Linked DNA regions of Homo sapiens: all the other regions are linked to region 4. Evidence: fine-mapped expression QTL. A gene starts in region 4. Each other region holds a variant in brackets. All regions are shown on one strand. Distances are from middle to middle.

Region 1 (8,677 bases), 39 kb before region 4:
ATCAAAAATATTATTTAATTTCAATCATTGTGGCCTTAATCTTCCTTAATTATAGGATATAACTGACTCATACAAATTATAGGTGATTTTCCTGATAAGGGGATACAACAATAAAGGCCCAATAATTTATTTTAGTGGAGTAAGTCCACAAGAATTTATTTTCGGTAAGAATATCCCACTTACCTGAGAGTTGCTTCCCTGATTTAAAATTTCCAAACAGTGGAGACAAAAAAAGAGGAACTGGGTTATTTACAAGGAGCCTTCGCTCTGTAATAATACCGGAAAGTGGGTTACTATAATGTGCACCTCAATGAACTCTGTGCAGCAAGAAAACCTCAGTGCTGCAGATCAAGCAAACTAGAGAAACTCTTAAAGAAATGGACAGCTATACCCTCCAACAAGCGTATCCTGTCAGACTCCTTAGAAACTTTCAAAGAAAAGACCCAAATGAAGAACAGACTTCCATGAAGCAGCATCGGGCATCTGCCTGGCTGTTGCCTCCTCTGCACTAGGGAGAAACCTGGGAGAATTAGCCTCATTCTAATTTGACAAATTTATCTTCTAAGTAAAAACTAAAATAGAAAAAGCAGCCACCTAGTATAACGTTTTTCTTTTTTAAGCTAGACCATTCAGGTTGAGATAAACTCACAAATATTATACTTTAACAGAGATTGCCAACTCAAATTTTCTCCAAAGCATCCTGGTAAAAATATTTCACTGTTTTTCCCCACCAATACGACAAGGCAAAATAGTGTAACTGTCAAATCAGCCTTCCTGGGTTTAAACCCTGGCTCTGCCACTTCCTAATTGTGTGACGCTGAGCAAGCTACTTAACCACTTTTGCACCAAGCTCTTCATCTGTGAAATGAGAATAATAATTAGATTTAATCTCAAAGGTTTGTTATGAGGACTAAGCTACTAATTCAGATATAAAGGTCATATCATAGTGCCTGGCACATAGTACATGCTATGTATTAACTGTAACTAACACTACTCAAATTATTTAAATTTTTATTAACTATTATTATTGCACCCAAAATCCCCTAATAGCTTTTATCAGGAAGACTATATATCCATAAACACTGTGACTGTCTCCACAGGGCTCTTCTTTTGGAAAGAAAAGGAGCTTTGGACCCAAATATGTCCAGAGATTCCAAACTGTGACAACCTATAAAGACATCTCGATGCTGGAATTATGATGACTTTAGTTTGACCAATGAAGTATTTGTTCTTGATCTGAGAAGCTGAGGCCTGCCAGTAATTCCTGGCTTATGAGCAATATTTATGTTCCCTTCTTTAGAGGGCTACCATGTTCAGTATTTCTGCTTCCAATCATGTTTAAAATTTTTTCTAACTTCTAAATAAAATCACATACCAAAAACCAGCATCATTAAAAGTATAATTGCCTGGGAATTAAGAGATCCAGCTCTGTAACTAACCATCCCCCTGTGTGATCTTGGACACATATAACTTAAGTTCTTCCTGAAAATAAGAGGGCTAGCTACCCAGTTAATCTCTTGATTTTTTATTTCAGACTGGCTGGCATCACTTGATTTATCCATATTTAAATATAAAATTTTTAAAGAATTATTCACCAAAGGAAAGAATAAAAGCTCCAAGTTAGCAGGCAGGGAGCTAAGAAATAAGACACTTGCTTCTACTCTTAGGTTTTCCTTGCCCATTCCTCTTAAATTTCCAAAATAAGTATCATCATCCATACTCATCCATGTGATGCTCTTTCATTTGGTTCCCCCCTAATTAGCAAGTATCATAAATATTTACCATAACAAAGACCTAACAGATCAGCAAATTCAATCCCTCCATTTTAACGGCTAATTGATAGTAACTTAGCCAAAATCATACATATATTAATCTATTTACTGTGAGGTAAATAGAACAAATATTTTTTATCCTAGTTTTTCAATGTAAGCAAAAGAGAGTAAGTAACTTCCAAGGATATCCCTGAAAATAACAGGGATAGAACCAGAATTCAAGGCTCATTTGCGGCCATCATAAGAGATACTCAATATCATGTATATTTAAATCTAACAATTTTTTTTTTAAGGCAAGCCCCTTGAAGGTGCATTATCTTTGTCTGCTTTGTTCACTAAAGTATCCCAAGTGCCCAGATCATGGCCTGGTACAGAGTAGGCCTTCACTAAATATTTGCTGAATGAATGCATGTTCTTAAAACATCACTGTCAATTTATGTTCTACCTATAACTACTACCTCGGGTTCTACATTCATAAGAAATAAAAAGTGTTTACCGTAAATCTTTCCTATTCAGTTACTGACAATCATAGATATATAAGATCCATAAGGAATTTTATTTATGATAAATGGATATGTTCTTAAACATGTAAGAGATGATGGAGATTTAGGTTATGCTTTTTCCCAAAATTTTAGCTCATAAATATTTCACAAGGTAAGAAAAACAGAAAAAGTACAAATCAACACTAG[A/G]GTTACTGTTGTATTTAATGTCACAGCCATTTTTGGCTTCATTCTTATAAAAATAAACAATTATATGCATCATTTACATCCTAAACTGACAAAACACTAACAACAAAATCAGCCAACTAAAGTCAGGTGTTTACCAATCAGCAAAAGGAAATCAGGTAATAGTTTCATTTTGTCTTTGCTCACTTTTTGTTAATATTTGAAGATCTTCAACAGACGGTGGTCCGTTTTTTTTCTCATAAGGAATGACTGTAGTCAAATACTGCCAAGTTTAAAAAAAAAAAGTGTCACTTAAATCGGAATTACCTTATCTGCAAAAAATTTGATACTGTTACTAGAAGGTCTATCTGATAATATAAAACACAAGCTACTTTGGTAATGAAAACACAGGTATTGTATGGGAATAAAGTTATCTTACTATCTCAGATGGAGCTCATTTTTTTTTGCCCACCTCTATTTGCTTCATACAAACCTAATGTCAACAGAAACAACCACCTTTTTGCATTTCAGTTATTGAAAATTTCATAGGACTAAGTCTGAGGATGGTTTACTCAATTTGTTCATTTTTAAAGTGAAGTATTATCTCACATTCTACTTGCATATTTTTCAACACATTTTAAAAATAGCAATTTAAACTAAAAACATAGTTTTAACAGTTCTGCACAATAAAGTAATTTCCAACAGCAAAATAATTCTGTTTCAGACCATTTTTATTCTGGTTGAACAAATGGTCCACATATATAACATGACAACTTTGAAAAACACACACTAGCTTCTTTCAGAAGCTAACAAAGACACACTTAAATCGTTTTAGAAATGCGTTACTATTATTTTAAATTATTGGGTAAGTCATTGTAAACGTTTTTAGGCATTAAAGGAGAAAAGTTAAAGTAGAGAATGGCCTAAGGGGAAATGAATAATGAAAATTAATGTCTGAAATTGAGATAAACTTCCTAGTTCACTACTTGTAAAGGCTCACAAGTAACAGCGCCATGTCTTTTAACTAATCCCATGAAAGCATAATCCATAAATGATTGTCCAGATTTTCCTGTTCTTACCATCCCACCAAAAAAATAGTTCCGTGCATTTCACATATGCTCATATAGAAAGCCAGTGGTTTTTACCTGGAATCTCTTAGCTCCACCCATTATTTAACCTCGTGCCCTAAATCTCAGCTCTGTGGCTAATCCTCACTGAGTGATCTTATCCTGCCCATAACTGAAAAACAGGATAAAGAAAGCTGCTTTACAGTAACTGGATCCCTAAGTCCAGAAAAGTGGTAAAACTGCATAGTTCAATCTCTGAGACACGTTAAGTGTCCCACCGTCTTTTTGACGTAGACTTCTTGCAGGTGATGCCCAATTGTATAATCGAATGTTTCTTTGTAAAGAACAACAACAACAAAAGGCCAGAAATGATGTCCTCCTGGCTTCACTCTGCATGTGTGAGGCAACCTGGAGAGGCACCAGGCGGCTGCACCCTGGCCCGCTCTCTGGCTACCTGGCTGCATCTTCAGGCCTCCCTGCTCCACTGACAGTCTGGAAGATTCCTTGTCTTCTTTTGAGGTTGAGAGAGGTGAGAGGCAACGGAATGAAAACAAAAACTCAAACATCCCTTCATGGAGCTCATTGATGAGCTGCAAATGTCAGTGTGAGGCTTCCCTCTTTAATAGGAATGATCTCCCTTCCGGAGAAACACTTAACTACCTGCAGTAAAAACTCCAGGCATTTGATCTAGGCGTTCTTTTGCTAAACTTCCTACAAGCTACATTTTGTACACCTTCTTAATCTGCACAGAAGAGCTAACTTAAAGACTTTTCTTTTTCAAGGTGAAAATTTCATATAGTGAAAGGTAATTTTAAGCATACCCATTAATGTGAATGTTTCCCATGTTCATGATATTCCTTCAATCATTATACAAAAATGTGAATAAAAAGCAAATTGCTAGATACTTGATTATATATTCATATCTGTGTATAATTTTGTATAAATAATGTCGCATGCCTCGTTTGGCAGACAACTGAGTTGGCTGACTATGCAATACACCTTAAAAACACATGAATTTCATTTAAAGGAGGTAAGATACACTCTATACATATTTTTGACCTAGAACTCTAGTCTCAAACATACCGACATCTGGCCTTCTTCCCCCAAAAATGACATCTTGCGACTTAGACTTTTAGAATTAGAGTCACATATTTTAGTTTAGTTATTTTCACAAGCAGATTTTCTACACATGCAATACATTATGTTAAAATGTTAATATTTGTTTAAAACTAAGAGTGAAAAATGGAGCTATAAAACACGTCTTAAGAATGCATTTAATCTATTGTCGAATTTGAAAAATGCTTTTTCCTCAAAGGGAAATTCTGTTCATTATCAAGACTATAAATATAATGAACTTTTATAATAAACTTTTATTTCTCTCGTTAAGCAATGGTCTTAGTAAATTAGTAAACTACCAGCTTTCAGGATCTTCACTTACACAGAAAATGAAAAAGCAGAGAATGAGGAAAATAAGGATAACCGAGCACCTGTTTCTCTCCACCTGAATTTCCAAAGGTGTGGCGGAGGCCATTCTGAATGACATTTGAGATCCCTTCCATGCTGAAGCGCTAAAGGCGGCAATATACGGCCCAGAAGAAAAGGACAGAGAAAGAAGTTCAAAGTCTATTAGTAAGAATGTACCATGATGACTTATGTGCCCAAGAGGCAAGCAGTTAGAAAATGCCACTACTCATCCAGATAAAGCACATAAACCCATGCTCTTTTTAAAATGCTGTTGCTTCCATTTCTTTGCAAGTTAAATGCAAAAGCAACTGTTTTTATGCTACTATATTCATGCAGGCATTTTTCTGATGTAGCTAATTGTTCCAATGTAAATGTTGTAAGTTGTACACATATTTGTTCTATACAAAATTTACTGTGTAATTTTTAAGATACTTTTTGATATTATTTACCTACATTTTATCAGAAGTCTGAAAACTTAAGATGAACAGTATGCGTATTTTCAGCCTAAGTTTGTATAATTCTACCATCAGTTTGGAGAACATTAACATAACATTTAGCAAATGAAAATGCTGTTACTTGGAGAGCTGATTATTGCTTCCCACTCACTCTTCGGGCCACCTGCCACTGCCTTGGTGCAGAAATGCGAACTAGAAGATGGCATACGCTTCCTGGAGAGCAGAGTGGATCCCATGTGCCAGCCAGGCCCCCAAAAACTTCTCCAAAGACTTTTCCACTCCGTTTCTAGGAAACAATTCTACTTTCTTTCTCCCAGCAACCTCCAAGACTTCCTAGAATTCTTTGTACTGAAAAGGGAGTATTTTTTTCCTAAACAACTTATCTTGATTTGTAACCAGTCTACAATGTCATCAAGCATAGTAAAAAGCGTCTGGTGGCACCTCTATGGCGGCTGAGTCAAAGGAGTGAGATGGATTCTTACAGCATGACTAATTAAGGGGAAAGGCTTCGTGAAAAGGAAGTGAAGGCCTGACTCACTTGATGGTTCCTTCCCCTGGAATTTTATAGAGGAAATTTAAATCAGTAAACACATTTGAGGAGTCAACATAAAGAATATTTTACCAGGCCCCAAGGGGCAGAAGAAAGGAAACCAAGGGAATGGTCATCAAGAAATACATATAGTTTCATCCAGTGGTTCTCAAAGTGTAGTCCAGGGACCCCCTCCCACCCAACTCCTGCCAAGAGGTCCCTGAAATCCTCTCAGGAGTTCAGGAGTTCAAAAATGTTTTCTTAATACTACTAAAATATAAGTTGTCTTTTTTACTCTCATTCTCTCATGACTTACAGTGAAATATTCCAAATGACAGACTGAATGCAGAAGCACATTTGTGAATCTAGCTGTCTTTAATCAAGCCAGATGTTAATGAGATTGACAAAAATGCACAGCAATGATATTTTTTCATGATTTTGTAAAATATTATTTTTCATAAATATATGCTCTTTATAATGAATTTATTTTTGGTATTTTTCATGAATTTATATTTTTAATTTTATCACTTTTAATTTGTAACATGGCTAATATTAAGTTTCTTGGGGTCCTTGATAAATTTTAAGAGCGTAAAGAAGTCTTGATAACAAAAAGCTAAGAAATGCCAACAGGCTGAATCACTGAGGGAGCTATGTGCTTCTGTATCAGTCATGTAACTCTATGGAGTTACTGAAAATCTGAGTTCCAAATTTTACTACCTTACAGGAGACTGTACAAATATGCCTCTCCTCCTAAACCATCCAACTTCCCTACCTAGCCTTTCCCAGATTTGCAAGCCAGTTTTGCTTCAGCAAGAATCAAATGTCTAGTCAAGATACTTTGCTGACTACTCTTCACTTCACTGAAAGCATAACTATTAGCTTTGATGGAGGAGGCTAGTTATAAAACAAAAACCTACAGAAAACTATTTCTGTAAATTTTTCCAATGCTATCATAATTCATTCATATTTTTTAAGCAGATTATCAAATGAGATAACATCTTAGGCTTCAGAGTATATAATAACAATTATGAGAAACTATTCTCAAATAACCAAGTCAGTTTATTTTTTAAATTATTTTCATAAAATATATTTTCTTTCAAATGTGACAAAGAGAAGAGTACTTGTTTTTAAGTACTTAGTCTATATTACCTGGCTCCATTATCTATGAGCATGTTTAAGCTAGATACAAATTCATAAAATCTAAAGCTAGATAAAAAGTTTCAGAATCCACCTATCAGGAAACTAAGACACACTTTCTATTTGGAAAGCACATTCCAAAAACACTAGCTTTGTTTTCGCAATCAGAAAGCCAATTCCTGTCACTAGAAAAAACAAAAGTTGATGCAGTTTCAATTTCGTAACATGCAGATGTAATTTAGGTTTTCTTTATTAAATGTGTGGTTGCAGACATTACTGAGCCATCTCAACTACTGACAGCCTGACTACTTGTGAAAGATGGCTTTTGTGCCACCAGAATTTTAGGCTTAGGGGAAATTAGTGAAAATGCAACCCCATGGGAAGCCAAGGTAACCTGGAAAAACAAAACTAACAGCTGATGCCAGTGAAAGAAGGTAAAGTAAGGAATGCAGCAGAACCTCTGTCCTTGCTGCTGATGGCTGCTGAGTCAGTGGCTGCAGCTGACAAGACCCTACTGTCCCCAGCTCTTTCACTGGCAATGAACCAGGGAAGCAATGTGCAGCATGTACAGTTCAATCGCCTCTTGATCCATTGGAAAATTACAGAACAAGGAAATCAGAAGGTTCTACAGGAAAAAAAAGAAAAAAAAAAAAAACTAAAATCTACGTCTGAGAACGTGCTCCTATCAAACGCTTCAGTTGCAATCAACTCCTACCTCCCCAGAAGTCAGGCAGCATCAATATTCTCCCTCCACTGCATTTCCAAACTCTCCCTCTCTACTAGCTCCTTCCTGACAGCATCCCGAAATTCTCAAACCCTCAACCTCTTTCCTTTCCCAAGGTTTTCCTGAAACAGCTCTTCCCAACATCATTTATTTGATCTGGAAGACCACGGCCACTTTTCAGATCTCTGAGACATCCAGGAATCCCTCCTCCCTGAACCGCTTCCTTGGATTCAGAGACACCACACTCTCCCAGATTTCCCTCACCCCAACCCTCCTGCTCTCTAGTTGCTTCTTCTAAGAGGGGCCACTTTCTTCACTCATCCCTTAAATGCCAGTGTTCCCTAGGATCTTGTGCCTCTTTCTTGACTCACCTCTCAGATGCTGCTGTGCCTCTGGATTCTGTCCCTATTTAATTATCATGCACCCCCTCTGGGTATTACCAATCAATAGCTTCATCTTCTGCTTCCATAAATTGATAGCTCCACTTTACTAAGATCAGTAAAGTGCTAAGAACAGAGACTGGCACATGGCAAAGCTCAGTACATGTTAGCTATCTTTACTGTAATTTCCCTGAGCTTCACTCTGCATGTTTAATGGCCAATTGGACATCTGTACCTATTGTATGTTTAATGGCCTATTGACAAGCCTATGTTCCTGTCTATATTTAATATCAATATTTCTAAAACTCATATCCAAAACTGAATTCAATGTCCTCTTCCCCACCAAAACACAAACAAAAAAATTTAAAAACCGGTTCCTCCTTCAGCATTTTATTCTCCTCGTTCATTCATTTCCTCTTTCTTTCAAAAAACATCCTGAGCCAGATACCATTCCAGGTATTAGAGATTCAGAGTGAACACATCA
Region 2 (8,677 bases), 57 kb before region 4:
CCAAAGAGTTTAAGTGAGCTCTGCACATGTTGGCCTTTTGTTTAGGCGTTGTGCAGACTAGCCCCAATTGAGCATTTCTAAAAATGTCCATTTATCTCCTAAAAAGGATAGGATGTTCTGCAAGGTAAGGGGGTGGAACCATTTTTCAGAGCCTTCAGTTGGGTTCTCTTTATAGTTTTCCATATACACACTTGCTGTGTATATGGAAAAAGCAAGTCTTAAGTGCTTTAAATGAGAATAAGAAAAAATATATGGTTTTCCACTGGAATTATTTTATCTAGTGTATATTCACCTATGTTTCACAAATTTCATACCAGTTTCCCCAGTAATATGCTTTTAATGATATAAATGATGAAACTTGACCTTATTTATTTCACGAAGAGTCATTTAATGCCTTTTATGTGCCAAGCACTGTTCTAGGCACTGGGGACACAGCAGTGAACCAAATAGCAGTGCACACGGAGCTTACGTTGTAGTAGGGAGAAGCCAGGCAGCTAACAGGTAAACAGTAACTAGGTAGCCACCAAGATGGGGATCCGGCTCTGGAGAAAGGCATAGCAAGACAGAGAGGCTGGGGAGAAGTGGGGCAGGCAGGTTGTTTTGTATTATGTAGAATGGTCAGGGAGCACCTTACCAACAAGATGAGATTTAATGAAGAGACCCAGAATTGCAGTTCTCATGGGGAACAGGCAGAACCTCTGGGTATAGCCAGCGCCAAGGCCCTGGAGTGGGAACGTGCTGTGCGTGTTCAAGGTAGAGCAGTGTTCAAGGTGCATGTTCAGGAGGAGCTGTGTGGAGGTAACTCAGTGAGCATGGAGGAGGTAAGAGGTGGGGCAGAGAGGCAGCCACGGCCAGACACAAAGGGTCTCGCAGATGAGTGCAAGATTGTATTGAGTGAGATGAAACCTTGGAAGGTTTGGAGCAGGGAGCGACAGGATCTGACTTACCTTTGAATGGGATTTCTCTGGTGCTGGGTTGAACATAGACTGTGGGGCATGGAGGTCAATAGTGAAAGCAGAGAGACCAACTTGGAGACTTTTTTAAGAATCCGGGCGAGAGATGACAGTGACTTGGACAGGGTGGTAGCCGTGGAGGTGGGGAGAAGTGGGCAGGTTCTGACTATGCCATATGAGTCGCATCAGTAGGATTTCAATGTATGCGGGGAGTGAGTGGAAGAGGAGCCAAGGATGACTACGACATTTTGGTTTGGGGCATTTTTAGCTTGAAATAGTCATTCAGCATCAAAGTGGAGCTAATGAATAGACAAATATCTAATCTGGGCTTCAGGAAAGAAACTGAAAGTAGATCTACAAATTTGAAAGTTTAGCCATAGGTGGTTTCTAGTCTCAAGGTTTTTAAGCCTTGAGACTAGATGAGAGCACCGAAGGGTAAGAATAAATAGAAAAGAAAAGAGAGCGCAGGACCGAGCCCTGAGACCTTCTGACTTTTGGAGACTGAGCAGGTGCAGAGGGCCTAGCAAAAGAAATAGAGAAGGAGCACCAGGAATAAAGGAAGAAGCCAAGAGGGTCAGTGACATGGAAACCAGGTGGAGAAAGGGTTTCTGGTAGGAAAGAGTAAACTGCTCAATCAAGCGCCACTGTTAGCCACGTAAGATGCGATGTGGGAACAGACTTGTGCACTTAGCACTGCTGTAATGAACTTCACAGAAGTACAGTGGTGGAGGCAAAGTCTAATCAGAGTGATTTCAAGAAAGAATGGGAGAGGTGAATTCAATTCACCTCTCCCATTGCGAGTTATGGTTATGCAACTCTCATGCAGACCATAAGTGCCAAGTTCATGAATAAGACAGACTGTGAAGTTGAGGGTCCTTGGAGGGTTTCACAGAGAAAGGACATGAGCTAGATTTTAAAGGACAGATGTGCTGTCTTCATTGGAGTGAAGAGGATAACCCAACCAAGACCTGAGATGGGAAAAGTCAAGGCCGGTGCCTCTAAGGTCAAGGCCAGTGCCTCTGGAGCAGTGAGTTTTAGTAGCAGTAGGTAAGGACAGAAACAGTAGCTTTGGCAAGGATTTTTCAGGCCTTAATTATCAAATGAAGAGTGTAGATTTTGTTCTTTATAGGGAATGGGGAGGCTTATTTTTGAGCAGCTGAATGACATGTTCACAAAGATGTTTTGGGGTAACCTTTGTGTAACAGGGTGGTGTGCAGGAAGGACTAAAGCAGAGAGAGACCAGAGGCCAGGACAGCTGTAACAGGCACTGCAAATGTCCTCGGTGTGATAACAAGGACCCAAATTCAGGTAGTGGTGGTAGAAATAGAGGTCAATTCATTCTCCTTGGTTTGTGAGTTTGATAAGAGAGAGTACAGATATTGCTAACATCCTTGTTCATCATTAGAGATTTCTCCAGTGACTTCTCAGTTAAGATTTACTATTGGGTTGAAATTTAATTTCTGTTAACTCTCCTTTCTGCATCTGCTGTATTCCTGATGAAACATTTTTCTATCTTTAAGCAAATACTGCAATCAGTTGAGCTTTTGCCACCTTCTGTTTGATCCAGTATGGGCTGCCAGGAAGGCTGTATTCCTGTCCCATTCTTGCATCGGTTCATTGTGTGATCTTAGTCAAGACTCACCACCAAAGTTTCACGCTTCCATTTCTCATCTGGATAGCACATGCCACCTCCCAGAAATGCTGTGAGGATTATACCATCTCAGAAATGATGGTGTGGGAGCACTTCCCGGTCTGTCCAGCAAACAAGAACCTTGCTTCTTCCTTTAGACATAGCAACTAACATTCTGAATATCCTCTTTCTTTACAAAACAGTTTCACCTTTACCATCTTTGGATATGAGTACAGAACCTATGAGCTGTTAGGTGATTAGCACCTGTCTCTTTACAGAAGAAACTGAGGCTCAGGAAAGGTAAGAGGGTTATCCGAAGTCATGGAGCTGGTTAGCAGAGGATGAGACCCCTGCTCCTAAATTGACCTCAGGTTCCATCTCCCAAAAAAATGCTGACCTCAGCTTGTAAGCACCAAGCACCTCGCCCCGTATTCCAGAAGAGGACATTTTAAGGAAGGCAACTCTTAGAGATGACCAGATGCCTCTGAAAGTAAAATATATCCCCAGTAAATTATCTTGAGTTCCTCCAAAGCGCAGGTCAAGTATGAGCACAGGAGCGATTGTGACCGTGTGCCCGTGATCTTCGTGGTAGGGCTGGATGTAGCTTTGTGTAAATCTCCCTGGCACTGTCCATCTGTAATGCCAACAGCTGTAAAGGGCTCTTCTAGTAAATACCAGAAGGGTTATATTTTAGAGTCTTGGGTTGAAGGCGGTCTTTGGCCATAGAAGGCGGCCTGGGTCTAGGCGTGGAAACAAATAGCATTCCCACTTCTTTTTGTTTCAACAAGCAGTTTTTTAACTGAAAGAATTGTTCTTTTTGGCAAAACTGCTCAGAGGCAGCTTCCCTTTTATGTTCAAATTAAAGGGAAATGACTCTCTTCCCTTGGACTTGAGGACTGTGAACTGGAGCTGTGCGTGTTCTGTGATAAAGAAGGAGGTGTGGGTGGATTTTAATCAGAGCTGAACTGAGTGGTGGAGTGAGCTAATACACAGGACAGGTTATGAGCTGCTGGAAGTAAGAAGTGGCTGTCAGGCATCACTCATCAGGAGAGACCCATGGGGGCCAGGATTGGTCTCACTCAAAACTGTATGCCCAAAACCAGTGCCTGCCATGTAGGAAGTGCTCAGGAAATATTTGTTGAACAAATGGTAATACAATTAATCACTGAAGAAGACATCCTCCTTCACCATAGACAGATCCTTCTAACTTTCCCTGCTGTTTCCAAGTAGAGCCCCTGTGGGAAGAGGACTCACTGTCATGCCTCAGCTTGGTGGAGTTTCACCGGAAATCTACCCATATGCAGGGTCAAGGCAAAAGAATTCCAAAGTTACGTCTCTCCCTCTCACTCAGGAAAAAACCTGAGGTGGAACTGAATCAATCCCAGCTCTGGGGCCTCTGCAGAAACTTTTACTACTTAGCCATTGACATTTACAGGTTTGTTGGAATTGGTGTCGCATTTGCCCTTTACACTGAGGCCTCAGAAACCAGTGGCAGTTCGGCCCCTATTGTCATAGGAAGGCTCAGTGTGAAGCCCTGGACTAGGCAGGGGAGGGGCAGAAGGGTGTGTGTGGCACTGAAAGGTGTCAAGTAAATGGCGACATGGCTTTTCTGCCCATATTCACCCAGGAAATTCATACCACACATGAGAGTTTTTCAGTGGGTGCATTAAATACCATCCCCCTGCACACACCTCCCGGAATCACCTAGTCCAGACCTACCGAATCAGGACCTGTGAGAGTCAGCACATTTTCTAAGCTCTTTGGGTAATTCTGATATGATTTTTAAAAATTTGAGAGTCACTGGTTTGTGCTCAGGCCCCTGCACCTGCAAATGGTAATGTTTTCAGTAACTTCTATTTTTAATTCTCGAGTTTGCAGGGATGCACTGAACCTGTAGAAACTATAATTGTTCCCAGTTCTTTTTATGTTTAAAGGTTTTATAATATAACTAAGAAAGCAGAAGACTATTCTTGGAGGCAACAAGATAACTTGGGCTTTGGAATCACAGAACTGCATTTGAATCCCAGCTCTACCACTTACTAGATGCATGATTTTGAGCGATTTAACTTAACCTCTCTGGGTTTCTTTCCCTGGCTGGGTACCCAGTTAACTCATGGGGGAAGCTTAGCAAGTACTCTCTTCTCTATCACTTTCCTCTTCTCTCAAAGTCATCTTAAGGTTTACTTCTCAAAAGCCTGTTAACTTTGAGACAGAAAACAATCACTCTGAGCAGAGGGGATTATTAATCCTATTTTAATTTATATACTTATACTGT[A/G]TATTTTATGTTGGTCTAAATTAGGCTATGGTGAGTATTTAGGATCCTACGTGTTGAGTAATTGCTTTATAAAAAAATCAGTGAATAATATGGCAGGATCTGCCCGAAAGGAAATACGTGCATGACACAAACTTTTATTGTCACATTTTGAAAACAGGTTCTGAAGAATTAATTGCTTTAAAATGTGGGGCTAGTTGTCGTTAGCTGGATGAAGTATAAATACAAAGAAATATTTGTAGGAGCTGAGAAAAGTTCTGATTTTTTTTTTTTTTAAAAAGACCTGATATTTGAGATAAATAATATTCTTCTGTTTGTTTTATGTTGTAGTATAATACCTATCTGATCAAACTGGATAATGTAAATATATTTACTGAAGATCAGCTTCTAATCTAAATGGTTCCAGTGGTAACATAATGGACATCTGAGACTTATACTCATGAGGTCTACCTACAGTCCATTCCCATTTAGGGGAAGAGAAAGGAGAGGAAATGGCCAAGAAGTCCATAAGAAGTGGACAGTGCTTTAACTTTTTCAAGTTTTGCTAACATATTTTATGTAAGTTATTCAATACCCCCATATTAAAGAGCAGCAGCTATTAAACACCAACATTTATTAGCTGCTGGAAAGTAATAAATAACTTCAGCTAGTCCCCTTCAGTTTCCATAAAATTATAAAACCAACACCATTTGACGTGAAAAAGCAGTTTTTGACCCTGGTGGAGTAGAGAATTCTTTCATCTTTTAAATGTTATAAGACATGTTTCTCCTCACTGCAAAGCTCGTGATTCTCTAGCATGAGTGATGAATGATGTAAATGGCAGAAACTGCATCTTTCATGTCCCAGGAAATGTGGTCTTGAATTGAGTGCACCATTTGGATTGAGAATACAAAAGCCAACAATACAGCAGCTTCATCATCTCTTAGGAAAAATGTTCCCTTCTTTTAGAAATGTATGTCCCAGAACCAACCAATATACCCATTGAGAAGACAAACCATCGAGGAGAGGTTGACCTGGAGGTTCCCCTGTGGCCCACGCCTAGTGAAAATGATATCGTCCATCTCCCTAGAGGTAAGCATTGAAGGCAGCTGAGATCTGCTAGTTTTCTATGTGGTCTACTTAGGTGTTTTCTAATTTTTAAAATTTCCTATGAGTAACTTTTAAAATGACTTGCTGAAGTAAATTCAAATAACTATTCCCGGGCAGACCTGCTTGGCTGAAACATATTTACACCACACATTGATAAAATAAGTCAGCAGGTAACTGGATTAAATGCCTCCTTCCTGGCCCTCTGTGCTCAGAGACTTTGTGATGACGGAAATAAATGGAAATAAATATGTTCCTAGTCATAAGAGCCTGGTATCTGGAACTTCTAAGCCATCTCTCAAACGTATGTATATATAAACTTTGTAAGGAGAGTAATCATGAATTAGTCACTGTCTCTTGTAGATTCCGCACTGAGCATTTGTACATTAGGTTACCCTCTACTTCTGGGCAGTTTTCACTTCATGTGAGCTAAACTTATCACCTATGTTGATTTTTCTAGTCACCAGGTTTACTCCATGCCTTTTTATCTTGCTCTATCCTTTCAGTCTGTGCGTAATAAAGATGTTATTTTGTCTCCCAATAGCTGTCACTATTTCCTTTTCTATAAAAGTAGACCTCTTCTTGATCAGTAGTATAAACTTGCTCTTAGCCGTGACTCAGTACTGCCTCCTGTGTCCTCCAACCATATTTTCCAAATCATTGCTATATAACTTATATTTCTTTTGGAAGAAGCAATATTCATTGCTTGAGAGAGATTAATTGTCTGTTACTCTAGATATTCTAAACGTTATGCTTGGATCAAACCAGATGACCAGAAAGTCAAATTCCTGGACCTAGTGTTTTTGGCTCTCTGTATAATTGTTCTGAGTGTGCTTTAGCATTATGCTTACATTCATTCAGTCAGTAAATATTAGTGCCTGCTGTATGCCAGACCCTGTTCTAGAGGCTAGACTTCAACATACTGTAAGTACGACTATTCTTATGACTGAAGACCTGTGCATTGCATAGTATCTATGTTATAAAGCCCCTAAAGAGAAATTTTCTCATGCATCAATAGCAAGAAAATGTATGCTTCTCCTAGGCAACTGATTTGTTTTAACCTAAAAGACATTGTGAATCGTATTAAAGACTGATAGTTGTTTCCGTTTTTGGCTTTGGCTGCTACAAAGCTCAAAGCTAACTTTGATGGCTTGGTTTTAGCACAGAAACAGAACTGGAAGACTGAATTTTGTAAACAGACCTCACTTGCAGCTTCATTTTTCTTTCACCAAGACCTTCCTTAATTTATATCTTATTCTTCTTGTATGACACATATTCCTAAAACTGCTTTCTATTTGATTTGGAATATGGGAAAGTAAAATTCATTCTTTTATTCATTGTATATTTAAAATCTGAATTCATCAATAAAATGTTACTCTTTGACATTTTTCTTGATGCTGGAAAATATGTTTCTATAAAGTTTTATTGCCATCTGCACTGGCTAAAATGATTAGGAATGTTTTCTACCTCCCATTCCTCCCTGCTCCCACCACCCCTCCAGAACACACACAGAAGCATATCATTTAAAATCTGAGTTTTAAACCACAGTGTTACATACCACAAAGCTCTGTCACTTCATGAGCTGAATTTCCAGAACAATTTAGGAGTAACTCCTTTTGATACTGTGTGTCATGTGTCTTTAACTAAATTGATTTTTAATGCATTTAGAAAACCTGACTACAATGATTTATTTGAAACAAAACAGAATATAAAAATAAGGAAACTTTAGGGAGTGCCCCCTATTGGTATGTGTTTAACCTTATTTTTGTCTGCAACATTCATTGTAAGAGAGATATTTTAAAAGAACATAAAGGTCATCATTCATAAGTGCAAAACTAAATGTAGTCACCTATGCGATATAATTCATTAAGGCAGAAAAATGATCTAATAGGCCTAAGCAAGATTTTCAACAAGTTTATGAAAAGTAAGACAATATTGCTTAGAGTTCAGTGAACCAGAGTATCAACCAAAAGACCAACTTCCTGATTGATTAGTTTTAATCTAATTAGTCTTAGCTATTAACACTAATTAATTAATAGTAAAAGAACATACTTTGTTCTAGTCTCCTGTTTGCCAATAAATCAGCTAATGTTTCTCCTTCGAAATCTGAGAAGACCATGTATGTTAACAGTAATCAAAATATTTTCATGGTCTAATTCACTTTTTCAAAATCTACCTAAGCACCTTCTTATTTCCTTGATTAGCTAGAGCCGGCATCATCTTACCCAATTATTAAGATTCTCACTCTGATTTTTTTTTTTTTTTTTTTTTTTTTTTAACATTCATCCCTAAGCGCTCTGCTCTCTACTAAGAGCTCTTTGGATCAACATTAGATTTTAATCACATTTTTAGCCTCAAAAAACTGGGAAGCAATAAAACCAAGTTGCTGATCTCTATTTGCAATGTCATTAAAATAATCCTTAACAATTCTGGTTTAGGTAATAAATGCTTATAATTTTTTTTCTCCTAGATATGGGTCACCTCCAGGTAGATTACAGAGATAACAGGCTGCACCCAAGTGAAGATTCTTCACTGGACTCCATTGCCTCAGTTGTGGTTCCCATAATTATATGCCTCTCTATTATAATAGCATTCCTATTCATCAATCAGAAGAAACAGTGGATACCACTGCTTTGCTGGTATCGAACACCAACTAAGGTACTGTCTTGCAAAAGTTAGTCTCTTGAATGATGAATCTAGGAAAACTTACACTCATATTGAAATTGCTTGAAACCT
Region 3 (6,564 bases), 48 kb before region 4:
TTGGAAACAGCCTGAACAATTATGTAATGTAATTTACCATCTGGTTAACCCTTCCATGTAAAAATTCTGTCCTGCGGTTATCCTGCCTCCGATTTTTCTTTGAACAAATGTACATTGGGCACAGCCTCTGTGCTGGGTCAGGATACAGTTGCCAGTGTCCAAAGCTGGGAAACAGACCCGCTCATAAAGTGTATGGAGTGACTAGCAACACACAGGCTGGCCCAGCCTATGATAGTGTTGTACAGTCTGAGTGGTTAGAAGTCATCCCTTTGTTTTTAAAATCTGCCTACCTTCCACTCATTCTTCAGCCCCCTTGAAACACAAGGTCTGCACTTCAAGGATTTGAAATCATTTCACCAGTCTTTTTTTTTTTTTTTTCAGTTCCTTCATCTCCCTATTTGACAGTTTCTTGACATTTCACCTTAAAATACAGTTTGTCAGTGTCCCTCATAAAAGTATAGTTGGTACTAGAACAAGATGTGATAATCTGCATACAGGCTATCAATCAATGAATTGTGAAACTGTTATCTCACCTGAGTTAGGTACTAAATTTCTGTTCATTTGAGATAATGTAAAGCAACTAATTTTTTGTGGTTTTATTCCTCCTCTCATTAAATAGCCTTCTTCCTTAAATAATCAGCTAGTATCTGTGGACTGCAAGAAAGGAACCAGAGTCCAGGTGGACAGTTCCCAGAGAATGCTAAGAATTGCAGAACCAGATGCAAGATTCAGTGGCTTCTACAGCATGCAAAAACAGAACCATCTACAGGCAGACAATTTCTACCAAACAGTGTGAAGAAAGGCAACTAGGATGAGGTTTCAAAAGACGGAAGACGACTAAATCTGCTCTAAAAAGTAAACTAGAATTTGTGCACTTGCTTAGTGGATTGTATTGGATTGTGACTTGATGTACAGCGCTAAGACCTTACTGGGATGGGCTCTGTCTACAGCAATGTGCAGAACAAGCATTCCCACTTTTCCTCAAGATAACTGACCAAGTGTTTTCTTAGAACCAAAGTTTTTAAAGTTGCTAAGATATATTTGCCTGTAAGATAGCTGTAGAGATATTTGGGGTGGGGACAGTGAGTTTGGATGGGGAAATGGGTGGGAGGGTGGTGTTGGGAAGAAAAATTGGTCAGCTTGGCTCGGGGAGAAACCTGGTAACATAAAAGCAGTTCAGTGGCCCAGAGGTTATTTTTTTCCTATTGCTCTGAAGACTGCACTGGTTGCTGCAAAGCTCAGGCCTGAATGAGCAGGAAACAAAAAAGGCCTTGCGACCCAGCTGCCATAACCACCTTAGAACTACCAGACGAGCACATCAGAACCCTTTGACAGCCATCCCAGGTCTAAAGCCACAAGTTTCTTTTCTATACAGTCACAACTGCAGTAGGCAGTGAGGAAGCCAGAGAAATGCGATAGCGGCATTTCTCTAAAGCGGGTTATTAAGGATATATACAGTTACACTTTTTGCTGCTTTTATTTTCTTCCAAGCCAATCAATCAGCCAGTTCCTAGCAGAGTCAGCACATGAACAAGATCTAAGTCATTTCTTGATGTGAGCACTGGAGCTTTTTTTTTTTTACAACGTGACAGGAAGAGGAGGGAGAGGGTGACGAACACCAGGCATTTCCAGGGGCTATATTTCACTGTTTGTTGTTGCTTTGTTCTGTTATATTGTTGGTTGTTCATAGTTTTTGTTGAAGCTCTAGCTTAAGAAGAAACTTTTTTTAAAAAGACTGTTTGGGGATTCTTTTTCCTTATTATATACTGATTCTACAAAATAGAAACTACTTCATTTTAATTGTATATTATTCAAGCACCTTTGTTGAAGCTCAAAAAAAATGATGCCTCTTTAAACTTTAGCAATTATAGGAGTATTTATGTAACTATCTTATGCTTCAAAAAACAAAAGTATTTGTGTGCATGTGTATATAATATATATATATACATATATATTTATACACATACAATTTATGTTTTCCTGTTGAATGTATTTTTATGAGATTTTAACCAGAACAAAGGCAGATAAACAGGCATTCCATAGCAGTGCTTTTGATCACTTACAAATTTTTTGAATAACACAAAATCTCATTCTACCTGCAGTTTAATTGGAAAGATGTGTGTGTGAGAGTATGTATGTGTGTGTGTGTGTGTGTGTGTGTGCGCGCGCACGCACGCCTTGAGCAGTCAGCATTGCACCTGCTATGGAGAAGGGTATTCCTTTATTAAAATCTTCCTCATTTGGATTTGCTTTCAGTTGGTTTTCAATTTGCTCACTGGCCAGAGACATTGATGGCAGTTCTTATCTGCATCACTAATCAGCTCCTGGATTTTTTTTTTTTTTTTTTCAAACAATGGTTTGAAACAACTACTGGAATATTGTCCACAATAAGCTGGAAGTTTGTTGTAGTATGCCTCAAATATAACTGACTGTATACTATAGTGGTAACTTTTCAAACAGCCCTTAGCACTTTTATACTAATTAACCCATTTGTGCATTGAGTTTTCTTTTAAAAATGCTTGTTGTGAAAGACACAGATACCCAGTATGCTTAACGTGAAAAGAAAATGTGTTCTGTTTTGTAAAGGAACTTTCAAGTATTGTTGTAAATACTTGGACAGAGGTTGCTGAACTTTAAAAAAAATTAATTTATTATTATAATGACCTAATTTATTAATCTGAAGATTAACCATTTTTTTGTCTTAGAATATCAAAAAGAAAAAGAAAAAGGTGTTCTAGCTGTTTGCATCAAAGGAAAAAAAGATTTATTATCAAGGGGCAATATTTTTATCTTTTCCAAAATAAATTTGTTAATGATACATTACAAAAATAGATTGACATCAGCCTGATTAGTATAAATTTTGTTGGTAATTAATCCATTCCTGGCATAAAAAGTCTTTATCAAAAAAAATTGTAGATGCTTGCTTTTTGTTTTTTCAATCATGGCCATATTATGAAAATACTAACAGGATATAGGACAAGGTGTAAATTTTTTTATTATTATTTTAAAGATATGATTTATCCTGAGTGCTGTATCTATTACTCTTTTACTTTGGTTCCTGTTGTGCTCTTGTAAAAGAAAAATATAATTTCCTGAAGAATAAAATAGATATATGGCACTTGGAGTGCATCATAGTTCTACAGTTTGTTTTTGTTTTCTTCAAAAAAGCTGTAAGAGAATTATCTGCAACTTGATTCTTGGCAGGAAATAAACATTTTGAGTTGAAATCACACAGTGTAACTTGCAAAAAGATTCCATCTCTGAGATCCGAAAGACTTTTAAGGTTATCAGTCCAATGAACCCCTGGTGTAACAAGAAGTCCCGTGCTTTTGTCATTAGGCGGGTCTTTCCCAAGGTATCCTTGCAAAAAGAAAAGTGTCTCCCAGAGTACAGAGAATAGCGATGCTGTTTTTAGGGAGACAAGAAACCTACCTGCTGTCAGAAACGTGCTCATAGCTGGTATCAAAATTAACTTGCTACGCACAGGAGGACTGTGGTGGGAAATCCTACAGTGGTTCGATGCTGAAGAAGAAAGACTTTACCGAGCACGATCAGGGGAAGCCTAACTGCAAAGAGACTTTTTGAGCTGACAGGAAAAAATAAATAGGTATATTTTCATACATTTTAGAAGCATCAATTTAAGAATGAGCTATAAACAGACCAATGTTGAATCTCCTTTAAAAAAATATATCCCCCTAAGGACTTTCTACTATATCATATACCCTTTAAAGCTACATTTCTTCAGTACAAGGCGTCATTTTTACAAATTCAAATTAATTTAAATTATTAATATTACTGTGTAAGTACATGTATCTGGGGAAAGGGCCAGTAAGTTCCAAATAAGAACATTAATAAAACAAGGAAACCATCTCGAGTTTCTCATACCCCTAGAGATGATGGCTGAAATGCCAAGCAGGCATTAAACTTCAAACCGCGCCCCTGCCTTTGCAGTCATGGTGTCTCAGTTGCTGAGTGGAGTGAGGAATATGTTAGCCCTGTTTGTTTTGCTCACAGGTGTTTAAGTGGAATTGTGAAAGCCGCCTGTAGCAGGTCCTATATAGACTCTTAATTCATTCATGTCGTCTATGGGAGGGG[T/G]CTGCATGGCTGTTTTTGAAATGTCTCACAGCCCCAGAAAAAGAGCAGGACTTACTTCTGTCATTCCACAGCAGCTCAGCATACTCTAATAAACGTCCTCCTCTTCCCCTTCGTAGCATTCTGGGACTAATCAGGGTTTCATCTGCTCACATATTGTAGCGATGGGTTCTGTGTGGAATTAAGGGAAAGAATCTAGCACTGTAAGGAAAAAAAAAATACAACACAAAACTCCCAAATATAAGGCTCTCAAACATGTATTTTTACTTCTTAAAAAATTTATTAAATGCCATTGATTTGACTGGAACCAGCAAAAGTGCTCATGATATTGATGAATCCATAAGTAGCTGTATCTAGAATTCATACTTAAGAAAAACACACAGGCATGAATAAAATAGGACACAGTAATGAGAATGGGCAGTTCTGCAGTGTACACTTTCTCAAGCACCTCAGAGGACACACACTTAAAGTACAATTCTTCACAGACACATGAAGCAGAACATTTGAAAATCAAAACTTAAATACAAGATTCTAAAAGTGAATGGCAATTTAATGGTTAAAATTTGACCAGTGGTGAAACAAGCAGCAAGCTACAAAATCCATCACCACCAACAGTTTCAATGTTAGCACTAAGTATTAAACCAAAGTAATGCATATTCTGGTTTTGCTTCTTCAAGAACAGCCCGTTTATTCTGTTTCAATCTCTCTGAACAATACTGGTAGGTAATAGTTACACTGACAATTCTCACAAAAAAACAGTGTTGGTTCTTGCCATCACTGAATTTATAGTATAAATCTCCCAAGGCTTTAATCTAGTTCATCAGTGCAGTTTAGATAAGAAAGCCATAAAAACAAATGGGCATACTGTCAGTTAATGAGAAATACAACTGCACATGCACAATTAATATTACTCTCTCTTAATCTACTAAGAGAACAGTTTATTAGTAGATTTAACAAAAACCATCTCTAGAATTCAAAATAGTGCCCATATTTCCGTTGGTTCTATAATATAAAGAATTAGTGTAGTCAAGATCTGTTAATACTGAATCAAACCCAAGTTCAAATGTGCTGAGTTTCCAATAGCAAGAAGGGTAATGGTAGCCAGCTCTCAGAATAATGCTGTCGGAAATCTAGCTTGGAGCCCACCGCAGATAAAGTTGCTGCTCTATGTAGGACACAGAACTAGAAGAAAAAGAGAACTTTTAGCTACAAATGTATATTTTGTATACATTTACACAAAACATACATTTTACATGTACATTTAAAAACCATTAAGTAATGAGAACTAAATGTTAATGCAAAGATCTATGTAGCAATTTTTTAAAGGTTTTAAGAGGCTATACCCAACAAGGATGAGTTCTCTCAACACACATTAGAATTTCCCAGAAATGAGATACCAAAAGGCCATGTCTCTTAGGGTGCCACTTGGAGATAGAAGCCCCTAACATTCGCCCTATACCATGAGGCTTGTGACACAACAAACAGGATCCCTAGGGAAGTCAAAGAAGGGTGCAAGTTTCTGCACACATTTTTATTCCTAACTAGCAGCACGGCAGCAGCCACGCGTACATTACTTCAGAATCAGCCTTGGGTACTACTGTCAAGGCAGCAGTGGCGGCAGGCTGCAGTGGGGTCATTAGGCAGGTGCGAGAAAGAGAAGCTCAATTAGCCCATACAGTGCCCACCCTACTCCCTTTTCTCAGGCCAAATGAGACCACTTTTCTACCTTCTTTCACTTCTGACATTTGCATTAAAACTAAGTGGTGTATTTAGGCAGCCAAGCCACACTCTCATCTGTGTTAAAACAACAACAAACCACCCAAAAAAGGGGAAGGAGTATTCTCCCCTTGAGCAATATCCCCCTCCCGGGCAAAGTGTCGTATTATTGGTCCCCAAGGAAGAGGAACAGTTAACCAGCTGTGAACTTTCAGGATGGGTGGAAAAGAGCATTTTCAATGACCCGACTTCCCCACCTTCCCACACACATTTGGGTAAATACATCTCCACATTGCACTCCCGTCTTCATTTTCTCTGACTACAGTCTCCACTGTAGTCTAAATCCTTGCTGCTTTTCCACCCAGTCCTCACAATACAAAGCCAAGACAAAACCACAACACATGCACACAGACAGCTCATCAGAAGCAGGTACAGTATAGATAGAACTGGGCTTACAGACAGGAGCCAGCGGCCCGAGCATGAGGAGCAGAATTAGATGGGTGCTGCTTCCCTAAGGCATGCGGTATAGGTAGGTTCACAATTATAGTCCTAGGTTTTCAGAGTAAAGAATTAAAAATCATTTTTCCCCAGAGGACTCTGTTCTTTGGGTCATAACATCCTTCCATGCAGTTAAATGCTAAAATAGCTAGAGAATGCTTCAGAAGCTCATTCTATCTCTGGCCCTCATAGAGGCCTAGGAACCCGATATAATTAAAATTTAAGACATGTTCTTTATGTTCGTCTCATTCCTGTTTC
Region 4 (8,677 bases):
AGGGCTTTGGGGTGATTCAAGCACATTACATTTACGGTGTACTTTATTTCTATTATTACACTGTCATATATCATGAAATAATTTTACAACTCACCATAACGTAGAATCAATGGGAGCCCTGAGCTTGTTTTCCTGCAACTAGATGGTCCTATCTGGGGGAGAGGGGAAACAGTGACAGATCATCAAGCATTAGATTCTCATAAGGTGTCTGCAAACTAGAACCCTCACTTGTGCAGTTCACAATAGGGTTCACGCTCCTATGAGAATCTAATGCCGTGGCTGATCTGACAGGAGGTGGCTCAGGTGGTAATGCAAGCAATGGGGAGGAGCTGTAAATACAGATGAGGCTTTGCTCACTCACTCAGCCACTCACCTCCTGTAGTGTGGCCCAGTTCCAGTACCGGTCTGTGGACCAGGGGTTGGGGACCCCTTGACCTAAAGCACAGCAATATCTGAGTAAAACAATTATCAATTATATCTAGTGAAAAGGGAACTGGAACAGACTATCAAGCAATGATGAGTATGTTTTTGCAATATAAAAGGGACAATGCCAGTGATGACCAGCTCCCAACTCCCGGAAAAAAAGAGATTTCATATGCATTCCCAAGTCAAGAGACATGCATTACCACCAACATATCATCTACTAAATACCATTAACAAGAGCGACAAAATATTTTTAAGCAAAGGCTAAAATAACCTACTCTCCTGACGGTCTAAGTGAAACAAAAACTCTTAACGATCTACGTACAATCCTCTAATTGATTTAAGTCAGCTACTCTTGAAAAACCCAAATACATAATACATCTACACTAATTTTTAAATCCAGAATGTGTCCTGGGTTTAGTGATTCAGAGTATCTAAATCTACATATACATAAAATTATCTTCTCTTTGGGAACAGGCTTCCAAAAATGTCATCTTTTGCTACTGACGGCATGCATGTGTGTATAAAATCCAATTATAAGTGTTTCCCTTCTCTACACCTGGGCAGAACACTGTACTGAGGAACCAATAAAAGGAGATGGTCTCCAAACACAGGTGGGCCTGCACCACTGCTCAGCCATGTTTACAGGCCCCACTCCCAAGGCTGTCTTTACAAGCTTCCTACCTTATTCCTGATAAATCTGTTTGTTTCACAAAGGAAAGGAGACAATCAGGCTGGAAACTCCTTTCCGTGCCCGTGACTCCTGTCCTGTCTCTCAAAAATTCTTCCCTAACCTCTAAGAGTCTCTCCATCCCATCAATGCTCTGAAAATCCATTCCTTCCCATGTCCTCATTTTTGAGACAAAGTCTCGCTCTGACACCCAGGCTGGAGTGCAGTTGTGCGATGATGGCTCACTGCAACCTTCGCCTCCAGGACTCAAGCAATCCTGCCATCTCAGCCTCCGGGCAGCTGGGTCCGTGGGACCACGGGCATGCGCCACCGGACTTCACTAATTTTTTTTTAATTTTTTTGTAAAGACCAGATTTCACGATATTGCCCAGTCTGGTCTCGAACTGCTGGAAGCAAGCCATCCTCCCACCACAGCCTCTCAAAGTGCTGGGATCACAGGTGTGAGCCACCGCGCCCAATCTTATTCCACTCATTTTACCTTCAGCCTCTCCGGAGGCTCCTCTCCCCCTATATACACAACATGCTCAAGTCCCTTTACTCTCACCATTCCTATTTACCATCTTTTGGGGGTAAAACCATGGTACCTAATTACAACTCTTACTTAACCAAATTATAATTGCGGCTCAGGTGGTTTAAAAAGTGCCCTCAGGAACTCTGCGCCTCACCTCTCCCAGCTGTGATAAAACCCCGTGAACCTCCTATCATTGCTCTTAGGTGATTCTGTAATTATTAATATTACTTGTGTATGCCTTGGTCTCCCCACCAGACCATGCGATCGTTACCATCAGTAAGCAGGGCCCTTCGTTTTCGTCTCTGTGGCGGCTCGCACTCTACCAGGGCTCCCGGGTGGGTCCCACAGATTCCTGTGCCCTAAATGCTGCCTCGCACGTTGGTACTTATGCACAGGCAATATACTCCACCTAGAACGTTAGACTTTTTTCCACCTGCCAGGCACACTCCCACTCATCAGTCAGATCTCGTTTGCACATTTCTTTATAAAGTCGTTCCTTACTCTCCCCAAGACACACGCTTTTAAGTCTCTCACATTTGGTACATATAACCATTGCAGCGCTAATTACATCCATACATGTATTTGTTTACAAATCTATCTCCCATCCTACGTTGTGTCCTAAGTGGGAGGGACAGTGCCCAGTCGTTTTGGTGTTCCCTGTGCGAAGCAGCGCCTGGCACTCAGCAGGTGCTTAATAAATGCGACTTGAGTGAATGAATGGCGACACACGTGCCCCAGGAGGTGCCCCAGGAGGTGCCGTCTCTAACTATGGGCTCTGCATGGGCGATTCCCTTCTAATACAAACGAGGGTTTGGTTTGCAGGAAGGAGGGCGGGAGGTACCGAGGCGGAGGTTTTCAGGGCTCGTGGCGGCGGGGGGCAGGGGATTTAAATTGCTGGGCGAGCCGAGGCCGACGGCCGGAGGAAGGAGGCGAGAGGGCGGGGACTCCCGCGTCCGGGCGGAAGGAGGGCGCAGGGAGGAGCTGCGGCCGTAGGGCTGCCGGTCGGGCGAGGGGTAGGGGAGGCTCCCGCCCACTCCCGGCCGGGGCCCCGCACTCACTCGTCCCCCTGCAGGAGGCTGCGCTCCGTGATGGGCCGCACGGCCGTCCTCGGGGGCTCGGCGCCCGGATCCGAGGGGCGGAAGCACAGGCTCAGCTTCTCCTCCAAGCTGCAGGCCGGGGCCGGGAAACCGTCGGCGCCCCCACCCGCCTCGGCCCCCGCCTCCGCCCCAGGCTCGGGGCTCGCGTTACAGTTCTCCTGGTCCAGGAGGCTCCGGGCCGGCTCCTGGAACTCATAGAAATCCTGCCAGTCCCCGTCCGCCGCCATCGCCGCCCGGAGCAGTCGCGCGCCCCGCCCAGGCCGGCCCAGCCCGCCCAGCCCGGCCCCGCCCCGGCCCGAAGCCCCGCCCCCGCCCGCTACCGTGCTGACAGATCCCAGGCTGTCCCAACCCTGGGTCTCCGGTGGCCTGAGTCTTCCTGGAGTTGAACGCGGTGCTACTAGAAAGCCAAGACCTTAACTGCCTTGAGTCACTTCCTATATTCTCTATCATTTAGGAATAACTTCCCTGTTAGCTTCCCTTATTAGCAACTTGGCCTAAATGTGGCTAAAATAAAGGACTTCTTTAAACTTACGACCTAATATCAGATTACGCCCCGAAAGTCGTTTTCCCCAAGGTAACCTGCTCCTTTCCTAACTTGCCAACCAGAATAACAGCCAGAGTCAATGGGAAATGTTTAGGTGGTACCGAAGTTCATTCCTCAAATATTTTACCTCTCACGTGCAAAGCACTGGCTAGATCCTGCAGAACATACAAAGATAATTATGCCAGTTAACATTTGCAAAGCACTTAGAGCAATGCCTAATAGTAGATACCCTATGTGTATGTTATAACTAATACATGGGTGCCCCATACACAGGGCTTACAATGTCGGAGTGATAAGAGTAACAAGAAATTGTTTAGACCTCATAAAAACTAAGTGTGATTGGGCGGTTCAGTTTTGCAAGATGAAAAGAGTTATGGAGATGGATGGTGGTGATGGTTCCACGACAGTGTTAATGTGCTGAATGCCACTGATCTATACACTTACAGATGGTTAAGATAGTAATTTTATGTTTATTTTACTACAATACAAAAAAATTGGAGTAGGCCAGGCGAGGTGGCTCACATCTATAATCCCAGCACTTTGGCAGGCCCAGGTGGACGGATCGCTTGAGGTCAGGAGTTCAAGACCAACCTGGCCAACATGGTAAAACCCCGTCTCTACTAAAAATACAAAATCTAGCTGTCAGGCCTCTGAGCCCAAGCCAAGCCATCGCATCCCGTGACTTGCACATATACACCCAGATGGCCTGAAGTAACTGAAGATCCACAAAAGAAGTAAAAATAGCCTTAAGGATGACATTCCACCATTGTGATTTGTTCCTGCCCCACCCTAACTGATCAATGTACTTTGTAATCTCCCCCACCCTTAAGAAGTTTCTTTGTAATTCTCCCCACCCTTGAGAATGTACTTTGTGAGATCCACCCCTGCCCGCAAAACATTGCTCTTAACTTCACCGCCTGACCCAAAACCTGTAAGAACTAATGATAATCCATCTCCCTTCGCTGACTCTCTTTTCGGACTCAGCCCGCCTGCATCCAGGTGAAATAAACAGCCGTGTTGCTCACACAAAGCCTGTTTGGTGGTCTCTTCACACGGACGCACATGAAATTTGGTGCCGTGACTCGGATCGGGGGACCTCCCTTGGGAGATCAATCCCCCTGTCCTCCTGCTCTTTGCTCCATGAGAAAGATCCACCTACGACCTCAGGTCCTCAGACCGACCAGCCCAAAAAACATCTCACCAATTTCAAATCCAGTAAGCGGCCTCTTTTTACTGTCTTCTCCAGCTTCCCTCACTATCCCTCAACCTCTTTCTCCTTTCAATCTTGGCGCCGCACTTCAATCTCTCCCTTCTCTTAATTTCAGTTCCTTTCATTTTCTGGTAGAGACAAGGGAGACACGTTTTATCCGTGGACCCAAAACTCCGGCGCCGGTCACGGGCTGGGAAGGCAGCCTTCCCTTGGTGTTTAATCATTGCAGGGACGCCTCTGATTATTCACCCACGTTTCAAAGGTGTCAGACCACGCAGGGACGCCTGCCTTGGTCCTTCACCCTTAGCGGCAAGTCCCGCTTTTCTGAGGAAGGGGCGAGTACCCCAACCCCTTCTCTCCTTGTCTCTACCCCTTCTGTGATTTTTCTGGGGCAGGGGCAAGAACCCCTCAACCCCTTCTCCTTCACCCTTAGCGGCAAGTCCCGCTTTTCTAGGTGGCAAGAACCCCCAATCCCTTATTTCCACACCCCAATCTCTTATCTCTGTGCCCCAATCCCTTATTTCCGTGCCCCAACCCCCCTTCCCGCTTTTCTGGAGGGTAACAACCCCGAACCCCTTCCCTCCATGTCTCTACGCTCTCTTTTCTCTGGGTTTACCTCCTTCACTATGGGCAACCTTCCATCCTCCATTCCTCCTCCTTCTCGCTTAGCCTGTCCTCAAGAACTTAAAACCTCTTCAACTCACACCTGACCTAAAACCTAAATGCATTATTTTCTTCTGCAACACCACTTGGCCCCAATACAAACTTGACAATGGCTCTAAATGGCCAGAAAAGGGCACTTTCGATTTCTCCATCCTACAAGACCTAAATAATTTTTGTAGAAAAATGGGCAAATGGTCTGAGGTGCCTTACGTCCAGGCATTTTTCACACTTCACTCCCTCCCTAGCCTCTGTTCCCAATGCGATTCCTCCCAGATCCTCCTTTCCCTCCTGCCTATCCCCTCAGTCCCAACCCCAAGCGTCGCTGAGTTTTTCCAGTCTTCCTTTTCTACAGACCCATCTGACCTTTCCCCTCCTCCCCAGGCTGCTCGTCGCCAGGCCGAGCTAAGTCCCAATTCTTCCTCAGCCCCAACTCCTCCACCCTATAATCCTTCTATCACCTCCCCTCCTCACACCTGGTCTGGCTTACAGTTTAGTTCCGCGACTAGCTCTTCCCCACCTGCCCAGCAATTTACTCTTAAAAAGATGGCTAGAGCTAAAGGCATAGTCAAGGTTAATGCTCCTTTTTCTTTATCCCAAATCAGATAGCATTTAGGCTCTTTTTCATCAAATATAAAAATCCAGCCCAGTTCATGGCTCGTTTGGCAGCAACTCTGAGACGCTTTACAGCCCTAGACCCTAAAAGGTCAAAAGGCCGTCTTATTCTCAATATACATTTTATTACCCAATCTGCTCCCAACATTAAATAAAACTCCAAAAATTAGAATCTGGCACTCAAACCCCACAACAGGACTTAATTAACCTCACCTTCAAGGTGTACGATAATAGAATAAAGTTGCAATTCCTTGCCTCCACTGTGAGACAAACCCCAGCCACATCTCCAGCACACAAGAACTTCCAAACGCCCGAACCGCAGCGGCCAGGGGTTCCTCCAGAACCTCCTCCCCCAGGAGCTTACTACAAGTGCCAGAAATCTGGCCACCAGGCCAAGGAATGCCCACAGCCCAGGATTCCTCCTAAGCCGTGTCCCATCTGTGCGGGACCCCACTGAAAAATCGGACTGTTCAACTCACCTGGTAGCCACTTCCAGAGCCCCTGGAACTCTGGCCCAAGGCTCTCTGACTCCTTCCCAGATCTTCTCAGCTTAGCGGCTGAAGACTGACACTGCCCAATCGCCTCGGAAGCCCCCTAGACCATCACGGATGCCAAGCTTCGGGTAACTCTCACAGTGGAGGTTAAGTCCGTCCCTTCTTAATCAATACGGAGGCTACCTGCTCCACATTACCTTCTTTTCAAGGGCCTGTTTCCCTTGCTTCCATAACTGTTGTGGGTATTGACGGCCAGGCTTCTAAACCTCTTAAAACTCCCCAACTCTCGTGCCAACTTGGACAACACTCTTTTATGCACTCTTTGTTAGTTATCCCCACCTGCCCAGTTCCCTTATTAGGCCGAGATATTTTAACCAAATTATCTGCTTCCCTGACTATTCCTGGACTACAGCCACATCTCATTGCCGCCCTTCTCCCCAACCCAAAGCCTCCTTCGTGTCTTCCTCTCATATCCCCCCACCTTAACCCACAAGTATGGGACATCTCTACTCCTTCCCTGGCAACCGATCTCATGCCCATTACCATCCCATTAAAATCTAATCACCTTTACCCCACTCAACGCCAATATCCCATCCCACAGCATGCTTTAAAAGGATTAAAGCCTGTTACCACTCGCCTGCTACAGCATGGGCTTCTAAAACCTATAAACTCTCCTTACCATTCCCCCATTTTACCTCTCCTAAAACGAGACAAGGCTTACAGGTTAGTTCAGAATCTGCACCTTATCAACCAAATTGTTTTGCCTATCCACCCCGTGGTGCCAAACCCATATACTCTCCTATCCTCAATACCTCCCTCTACTACCCATTATTCTGTTCTGGATCTCAAACATGCTTTCTTTACTATTCCTTTGCACGCTTCATCCCAGCCTCTCTTTGCCTTCACTTAGACTGACCCTGACACCCATTAGGCTCAGCAAATTGACTGGGCTGTACTGCCGCAAGGCTTCACAGACAGCCCCCATTACTTCAGTCAAGCCCAAATTTCATCCTCATCTGTTACCTATCTCGGCATAATTCTCGTAAAAACACACGTGCTCTCCCTGCTGATCGTGTCCGATTAATCTCCCAAACCTCAATCCCTTACTAAAGAACAACTCCTTTCCTTCCTAGGCATGGTTAGTGCGGTCAGAATTCTTACACAAGAGCCAGGACCACACCGGGTAGCCTTTCTGTCCAAACAACTTGACCTTACTGTTTTAGCCTAGCCCTCATGTCTGCATGCAGTGGCTGCCGCTGCTTTAATACTGTTAGAGGCCCTAAAAATCACAAACTATGCTCAACTCATTCTCTACATTTCTCATAACTTCCAAAATCTATTTTCTTCTCACACCTGACGCATATACTTTCTGCTCCCCGGCTCCTTCAGCTGTACTCACTCTTTGTTAAGTCCCACAATTACCATTGTTCCTGGCCCGGACTTCAATCCGGCCTCCCACATTATTCCTGATACCACACCTGACCCCCATGACTGTATCTCTCTGATCCACCTGATATTCACCCCATTTCCCCGTATTTCCTTCTTTCCTGTTCCTCACCCCGATCACACTTGATTTATTGATGGCAGTTCCACCAGGCCTAATCGCCACACACCAGCAAAGGCAGGCTATGCTATAGTACAAACCACTACCCCGCCTCTCAGAACCTCTCATTTCCTTTCCATCATGGAAATCTATCCTCAAGGAAATAACTTCTCAGTGTTCCATCTGCTATTCTACTACTCCTCAGGGATTATTCAGGCCCCCTCTCTTCCCTACACATCAAGCTCGAGGATTTGCCCCGACCCAGGACTGGCAAATTAGCTTTACTCAACATGTCCCGAGTCAGGAAACTAAAATACCTCTTAGTCTAAATAGACACTTTCACTGAATAAGTAGAGGCCTTTCCTACAGGGTCTGAGAAGGACACCACAGTCATTTCTTCCCTTCTGTCAGACATAATTCCTCAGTTTAGCCTTCCCACCTCTATACAGTCTGATAACAGACTAGCCTTTATTAGTCAAATTAGCCAAGCAGTTTTTCAGGCTCTTAGTATTCAGTGAAATCTTTATATCCCTTATGGTCCTCTGTCTTCAAGAAAATTAGAATGGACAAAAGGTCTTTTAAAAACACACCTCACCAAGCTCAGCCACCAACTTAAAAAGGACTGGACAATACTTTTACCACTTTCGCTTCTCAGAAGTCAGACCTGTCCTCAAAATGCTACAGGGCACAGCCCATTTAAGCTCCTGTATAGACACTCCTTTTTATTAGGCCCCAGTCTCATTCGACACCAGACCAACTTAGACTGTGCCCCAAAAAAACTTGTCATCCGTACTATCTTTTGTCTAGTCATACTCCTATTCACCGTTCTCAACTACTCATACATGCCCTGCTCTTGTTTACACTGCCGGTTTACGCTGTTTCTCCAAGC

What was found.
Region 1: its variant is fine-mapped to the expression of FEZ2 in monocytes after LPS (Fairfax 2014, PIP 0.93). The same link has a PIP of 0.9 or more in whole blood.
Region 2: its variant is fine-mapped to the expression of FEZ2 in whole blood (INTERVAL, PIP 0.92).
Region 3: its variant is fine-mapped to the expression of FEZ2 in whole blood (TOPMed, PIP above 0.99). The same link has a PIP of 0.9 or more in monocytes.

Annotation. Positions count from the first base shown.
Region 1 is chr2:36,555,794-36,564,470 of GRCh38, forward strand. It overlaps FEZ2 (fasciculation and elongation protein zeta 2), which reads right to left. Exons shown (of 8, transcript NM_005102.3): 6 at 2,645-2,720. Among named protein-coding and RNA genes, the nearest start is that of FEZ2, 38 kb to the right of the region's middle. RefSeq lists an enhancer at 5,285-6,484. The variant A/G (reference allele first, on the strand shown) is at 2,462.
Region 2 is chr2:36,538,573-36,547,249 of GRCh38, forward strand. It overlaps CRIM1 (cysteine rich transmembrane BMP regulator 1), which reads left to right. Exons shown (of 17, transcript NM_016441.3): 15 at 5,804-5,926; 16 at 8,412-8,599. Among named protein-coding and RNA genes, the nearest start is that of FEZ2, 55 kb to the right of the region's middle. The variant A/G (reference allele first, on the strand shown) is at 4,859.
Region 3 is chr2:36,547,906-36,554,469 of GRCh38, forward strand. CRIM1 (cysteine rich transmembrane BMP regulator 1) reads left to right here. Exons shown (of 17, transcript NM_016441.3): 17 at 620-3,230. The coding sequence ends at 796. FEZ2 (fasciculation and elongation protein zeta 2) reads right to left here. Exons shown (of 8, transcript NM_005102.3): 8 at 4,353-5,274. The coding sequence ends at 5,258. Among named protein-coding and RNA genes, the nearest start is that of FEZ2, 47 kb to the right of the region's middle. The variant T/G (reference allele first, on the strand shown) is at 4,096.
Region 4 is chr2:36,595,194-36,603,870 of GRCh38, forward strand. It overlaps FEZ2 (fasciculation and elongation protein zeta 2), which reads right to left and starts at 2,975. Exons shown (of 8, transcript NM_005102.3): 1 at 2,684-2,975. The coding sequence starts at 2,949. RefSeq lists enhancers at 2,116-3,043, 3,044-3,970, 4,898-5,823 and silencers at 2,424-2,783, 2,824-3,043.